Homo sapiens: one gene and its partner. The protein of the gene in region 1 purifies or fractionates together with the protein of each later gene. This does not show direct contact. Each region holds a gene or a part of one and is shown on either strand. Other genes may lie near its edges.

Evidence for each region. The genes of interacting proteins can lie anywhere in the genome.
Region 2: the proteins of CHRM4 (region 1) and PIGM purify together in Homo sapiens (affinity purification with mass spectrometry; 2 studies listed by BioGRID and IntAct, with this or other methods). This does not show direct contact.

The regions. Positions count from the first base shown.
Region 1 is NC_000011.10:46,383,289-46,386,032, forward strand, and holds the end of CHRM4 (muscarinic acetylcholine receptor M4), read right to left. Parts: coding exon 1,830-2,744; 3' UTR 501-1,829; downstream 1-500. Other genes in the region: MDK (midkine isoform a precursor), read left to right, coding at 181-206. UniProt on the Homo sapiens protein: The muscarinic acetylcholine receptor mediates various cellular responses, including inhibition of adenylate cyclase, breakdown of phosphoinositides and modulation of potassium channels through the action of G proteins.
Region 2 is NC_000001.11:160,029,191-160,033,381, forward strand, and holds the start of PIGM (GPI alpha-1,4-mannosyltransferase I, catalytic subunit), read right to left. Parts: upstream 2,801-4,191; 5' UTR 2,550-2,800; coding exon 1,278-2,549; 3' UTR 1-1,277.

The DNA.
Region 1 (2,744 bases):
ATGTCCCATGTCCACATCACAATGGCTGCCCCATCCCCTGCTTCCGAGTCAGCTGATTGGAAACCACTAGGGGGCAGAATCTTCTCCTTCCCTGATGCCCGGGTGTTTGTGGAGCCGGCGGTCTGCAATGGGTCAGCCTAACTGCTGATATGGTATTAATATTTCTTTCTTGTTTTACAGCCAAGAAAGGGAAGGGAAAGGACTAGACGCCAAGCCTGGATGCCAAGGAGCCCCTGGTGTCACATGGGGCCTGGCCCACGCCCTCCCTCTCCCAGGCCCGAGATGTGACCCACCAGTGCCTTCTGTCTGCTCGTTAGCTTTAATCAATCATGCCCTGCCTTGTCCCTCTCACTCCCCAGCCCCACCCCTAAGTGCCCAAAGTGGGGAGGGACAAGGGATTCTGGGAAGCTTGAGCCTCCCCCAAAGCAATGTGAGTCCCAGAGCCCGCTTTTGTTCTTCCCCACAATTCCATTACTAAGAAACACATCAAATAAACTGACTTTTTCCCCCCAATAAAAGCTCTTCTTTTTTAATATATAAAAGCCCCTTCCCAAGGAGTTTGCTGTGGAAATGTGTTTGGGAGTGGGAAGGTGGGGAGAAAGACCAGGCTGTAGGGACTGGTGGGTTTCAGGGGGCTTGGTGGTGGGTGCTCTCCAGAGCTCATGGAAAAAGCAGAACAATTACAAACATTTCTTCCAGGGCCCCTGAAAGGGTGCTCCCCATCAAGTCACCTAAGCCTTTCGGTCCTCATCTCCCTCAGGGACCAGGGCTGGGGAAGGGAACCTGGCTGACTCACTGGAACCACCACACCCATCTCAGCCTCACCCAGTCAAAGGTCTTTTGATACAACCCACAGCCAATCAGGAAGGTTCTACCCATGGGGGAGAGCAGATGCGAGGGCTGCGTGCCTACCTCACTGCCCACCTCCCCCCTTCCCACTGTCATGGAAACCCGAGTGAGCCACCAGGTTGACCCCTTTCCTCTTGCCTGTGTGACCCAGGCCTCCACCCTGCAGAAGCCAGGGGGTGAGAGGTTTGAAGAGGGCAGATGGGAATGCCATCCACCACAGCCTCACCCTGACTCGATGTGTGACCTGGGACAGCCTTCTAAGGCCGGGGCTGCAGGGGGCTGTCTTCTGAATACGTGGACCACTCACGGCTCAGCCTGGGATCGCAGAAGGCCAGACCTCAGTTCCTGAGACAGAACCTCTGACCTCCCAGCTGCCCCATCTTAATGTGACAAGGGCAGTGCTGCTGGGGCGGGGGGGACCTGGCCTCCATCATACCCACCCAGAACCTGGCTAAGTAGCTGCAGCCAGAGGAGATTTCTGCCCCTGGAGTGGGATTTGGGGAGAGGGGGCTGAGCCTACATGCGGGGTGCAAGGGGGCAGAAAGCACCGATTACAGCAGAATGGGGGACCCCACCCTTCTACTCCCTTCCCAAGCCTCCTTTTCCAAGCACTGGCCCCTTTGTTCTTCCTGAGGGGGCCCTGGGCTTCGGCCCCCATCCAGATGTCCATTCTTCCAGCACTGCTGATGGTTGGTCACAGTGGGGCAGGTGCCCACCCAGGCCAGTGCCCCGCAGCTCGCTGAAGCAGGGCCACAGAGGTGGGCCAGGCAGCCCCAGTTCAGACACTCCCTGGGGTGAGCCTCCTCAGCCTGAGCAGAGATCTGGTCTCTGAATGCAGCCACAGAGCCTCTTCTGAACTTCCTCCTCAGCAAACGTGAACGCAGAATGGTGCCTGCAACTCTTCCCCACAGCAAGTGAGCCGTGTGGTCCCCCCAGCACACGCACGCAACACCAGCACCTCCTAGGGCACTCCTGCCTGCCTACCTGGCAGTGCCGATGTTCCGATACTGGCACAGCAGCAGGTGCCGGAAGGTCTTTTTAAAGGTGGCGTTGCACAGAGCATAGCAGGCAGGGTTGATGGTGCTGTTGACGTAGCAGAGCCAGTAGCCAATGGACCACACCGTGTCAGGGATGCAGCTCTGGCAGAAGGTGTTCACCAGGACCATGACGTTGTAGGGCGTCCAGGTGAGGATGAAGGCTAGCAGAATGGCAAAGATCGTTCGTGTCACTTTGCGCTCCCGGGCCGCCATCTGCCGCTTCTTGCGCACCTGGTTGCGAGCGATGCTGGCGAACTTGCGGGCCACGTTGGCCGCAGGGCGCATGCCAGCCGGCGTGGCAGGCACAATCTCAATGGCTGTCACACACTCATTGCCTGTCTGCTTCGTCACAATCTGGATCTTGGACCATCTGGAGGCTGGGTTGAGGGCCCGCGGCTGCAGGGGAGGGGCGGGCATGGCGGGCGTGGTGGCCTCTGTGGTGGACAGCTCTGTGGCTGGGCGTTCCTTGGTGTTCTGGGTGGCACTGCCTGAGCTGGACTCATTGGAAGTGTCCTTATCAGCCACGGGGCGCGGTGGCGGTGGCAGCGCTGGCGGGGGGGCCTCCTCCAGCTTGCCATTGCGCAGCTCCTCCCGGGCGGCCTCCCCGGGCGGGGGCTTCTTGACGCTCTGCTTCATTAGTGGGCTCTTGAGGAAGGCCAGCGTCTTGGCTTTCTTCTCCTTCGGGCCCTCGGGCCGGTGCTTGTGGACTCGGCTGCGACTGGCCAGGGAGATGTGGATGTACAGCACCGTCATGATGACCACAGGCAGGTAGAAGGCAGCAATGGCTGTGCCAAAGGTCACTGCTGGGTTGGACAGGAACTGGATGAAGCACTGGTTGTCGGGCACCGTCCGCTTACC
Region 2 (4,191 bases), on another chromosome or scaffold:
AGTTTGTGTAGGACCACAAACATTAAAGGCAAGATGATAGTTTTAAAAATGTAATAACTCAAGTCTAAACATGAATGAATTTAAATTTAATCCTTTTTGTATGAAACCAAATAGCAGTCTAATACCACTGGGACTAAGTGCTATAAAAGTAAGTAATAAAACAAATACATGAAACATGATTACAATTTAAATTCTTTGGATTATCTTTTTTTTTTTTTTTTTTTGATATGGAGTCTTGCTCTGTCGCCCAGGCTGGAGCGCAGTGGTGCCATCTCGGCTCACTACAGGCTCCACCTCCGGAGTTCACGCCATTCTCCTGCCTCAGCCTCCCGAGGAGTAGCTGGGACTACAGGCACCCACCACGCCCGGCTAATTTTTTGTATTTTTAGTAGAGAGGGGTTTCACCGTGTTAGCCAGGATGGTCTCAATCTCCTGACCTCGTGATCTGCCCGCCTTGGCCTCCCAAAGTCTTTGGATTATCTTGTAAGACCCCACATTTAATATAGAAGTTTAAAACTCTCTAAAATAATACTACTAAGCATCTTAGTATTATTTAATACTTTTCTATCTAAAAAGTTGTCCTTTCCTTTTTTTTTTTTTTTTTTTTTTTGAGACAGGGTCTTGCTCTGGGCTCAAGCAATTCTCCCACCTCAGCCTCCCATGCAGCTATGACTACAGGGGTGCACCACAACACCTGGCTAATTTTTTTTTTTTTTTTTGAGACTAGGTCTCACCATCTTGCCCCAGGTGGGTCTAGAACTCCTGAACTCAAGCGACCCTCCCACCTCAGCCTCCCAAAGTGCTGAGACTACAGGCAAGGGCCACCATACACAGTTTAAGAATATTTTTTGGATTTTCACAGCTGTCAGGAAAGCTTTAGAAAGAAAAGATGGGTGTTAAAAGTTAAGACACAGCTTAAGACAGAAGCATTGTAAAACAGGAACAAATACTGGCTTAAACCTGATGTCTCTAACTATATTCCTCTATTTTAAGAATGTTTTAGTATCTGATAGTTTCATCAGCCTTTCCATTTTCCAATATGTGACCTTTATTCCCACCATGTCCCAAATAAACGAGTCCTAGGATTTCCTAGAAGGTGGACCTCAATTATTGTGTCCCTTTTATATATAAGGCAAACATTGCTTTTAAGTTCTGTTGGAACATGGGAACTTTCACTAGAATGCTTAGAATGTTCAGAAAAAATGTCCCAAAGCTCTCTTCTGGTCCATACAAGACAATCAGAATGTAACACAGTAGCAGAGGGTGTGGAACATACACTAGTCATATTTGATTCTCTCTGTCAGGGGTTCTTCTTTGTAATGGGAAATAATTTGAATCAGGATGGAACAATTGATAAGAAGAAAGAACAAACCAGCTAACCAAATAAACAGAAAGGTGTTCTTTCCTTGAAACTCTAGAACATAGGCAGGAGCCAGCCACATGGCCTGCCCTATAAACCATAACATTAGGAGAACTACAGCTCTTTTCCAAGGCATTCTGACTAGTGGCATCACAAGAGGCAGTAAGCAGAGGTACCAAAGAAAGTACTGGGAGGTGCAGACTTTGTTAAAAGTCACAAAAATGGACGTATGAAGAAAACAACAAAAAACGAGGTCTCTGTAATAGGCGAAAGACACAGCTGAAAGCAAGATGAGCTGTGGCAGGAATGCAGCAATTCCCAGGGAAAAACTCCACTTGCTCTCTGCAGTCAAATACAGCATGTAGAAGTACGGAGAAAAGTTGTGACGGATATCCCGCCTAGTCAGGTGATAAAAGTAGGTGTGTTCCAAAAATTCCCAGCCGTACTCATAGTAAAAACCAAAGCTCAGGGCAAAAAACGTGAGTCCAGCAACTGCTACAAACAGCAGCACAGCCCGATTACACAGCCTTTTCAGGAGCTCGTACAAACAAGCCTGGAAAGTGTACCGGAATTGACGGAGGCTTTTGTCATTGTCGCGATCTGGAAGCAGGTGGAGGGTTATGGGAAGGATGTAAGTCACTGGATATATCTTCATATGCACCGCGAAACCATAGAATACAGCTGCACACGCGACGAGTCTTTTCTTTATCAAGTAGAGGACCATCAGGACCAGGGAGGCGACAATAGAGTCCGCATTACCGCGGCTGGATACTGCCATAGGCAGGGGGTTAAGAAGCCAAAAGACACAGTAGCCACAAGCCTGGCGGCGCCCCAGCCCCTTCAGCAGCAGCAGGCGGTATAAGAGGAAAGCGGTGAGGAGGTCGCAGCTGATGAAGAGAAACTTTCCAAAGAGCTCGCTGAGGTAGATGTTGGGAGTGAGGAGCCAACCCAGCAGCGGGGTGTAACGGTACGTGGCTCTCAGGTAAGGCGAGCGCCCCTCCGTGACGAAGCGCGCGGCGTCGGTGAAGACCTGGTAGTCGATGTCCGTATACCTCACGTGCAGGGTCCGGTCCTGGAAGACGCCATAGAAAACCAGGGCGACTCTGGCTAGAAAGGCCACACCAAAGACGCCGGCTGGAGCCACCTTCAAGTTCAGGAGCCATTCGCCCCAGTGCTTGGTGGAGCCCATGATCTGACCGTGCGACAGCTGCTTAGCCCCAGCTCCAAACTGCCTTCGTACTTCTAACCTTCCCTTCGGTTCTTTGCAGCAGGTGGCCGCCGCATCTCCCACCCGCCAGGCTGCCAACCGAAACGACTGCAGACTATCACATCCGGCATGAAGCCCCGCCCCCGTACTGCTACCTGTCTCCAGCCCCGCGCGGTCTTCTCAGCCGCCCGAGCCAAAAACTTGCCTTCCTCTGGATGGACGGTCTCGCTTCCGCTTCTTCTTCCAGCGGAGGCGGGATTTCCGGTCCGTGGGAGGGGAGACGTCCGCTTGCCGGGAAATCCGGCACTGGCTTGAGGATTTTATGGAGTGGAGTGAGATTTCTTTGTAAGTGACAGCCCGCCGCCCCCCGCCCTCTTCCCGCGCCCCATTTCCAGTCCTCAGAGGAAAACCCTCCGACGAGCAGCGAGCTGCGGGCTGCGCGCTACATCCTTCAGTCCTGGGCTGGAGATCCGAGAGTGAAAAATGTAGGAGTGAAAGGAAGATAAGCCTTCTCATGCTTTACTCCACTAGCTCGCCGGTATTCACCGGGGATTTGTGGGCCCCGGACAGGACAGGATGAGTTGAAGGGGGCTGAGTGTGTATGTTCCATGCAATATTGGAGGCATACTTATATTTTTAAATTACTAGTTGGTAATCAGAGATTCAGATTTAAGTGGGCAGCTTGTATTTTATCCGGCAACCCTAGGTGAAGGTGATGGGAAAGAAGACAGGAAAGCGTCACAAAATTCCTTAACTTGTCAGCCCCTTATGCCTCAGTATCTCTGTATTTGCTATTTCTTCTGTCAAAGTTGCCATCCGCTCTCCAATCACTCTGGCAAATACCTACTCAACCCTTCAGGCATCAGTGCAAGTGTTAGCTCCCAGCTCCCACTCACTTCCTCATCACGCAGAATGAATGACTTAGATGCCAGTCCCCTCCCCTGTCCGAGGATAGGTAGACTGGGGCGGACGGGATCTAAGTTCCAGAAAATCACTCACACAGAAGACCCTGCCATGCTACTAAAAGTTCTCCCAGTGCTCCAGAACTCCCTGGTCATTCCTTTGTTACAGCATTTGTCACACTGCTTTGTAATAACTGTTTTTGTTTGTTTTGCTCTCCTAGTTTTCCATCAGGACACTTTCAATTCTTCGGTATCAGAGATTATCTTGTTCTTTTCTCTACCTCAACATCTAACACAGTACTAGTAGCCATTCAGTAAAGTTGAATTGATTTTAGAGGTTCCTCCTACCAGAATATTTCTAGAGTGGCATCTTTGGATTGCTCCCAACTCCCAGTTATTTTCCCTTTTAAATATCCTTTATGTATGTCAAGGTCCCCTGCTCCCCCCACCCCACTCCAACCCTACTTCCATGAATTTCTTGCCAAGGACTGTAACCCATTAGCTCTTCCCTTTCCGTGGTTACTTAGTGCACTTACATAGTCCGCATTGTAGAATTTGATACTTTATTTTAGATTGTATTCATAGCCCTCACAAGAGATTATAGGGTTCTTGGGGGTAGAAATTATATCTTATCCTTAATTTTTTTCAATTATGTGTAATTTATTGTAGTCTTAGGCACATGGTAAATGCTTAGTAAATACTGACTAATTGGATTTTATAGA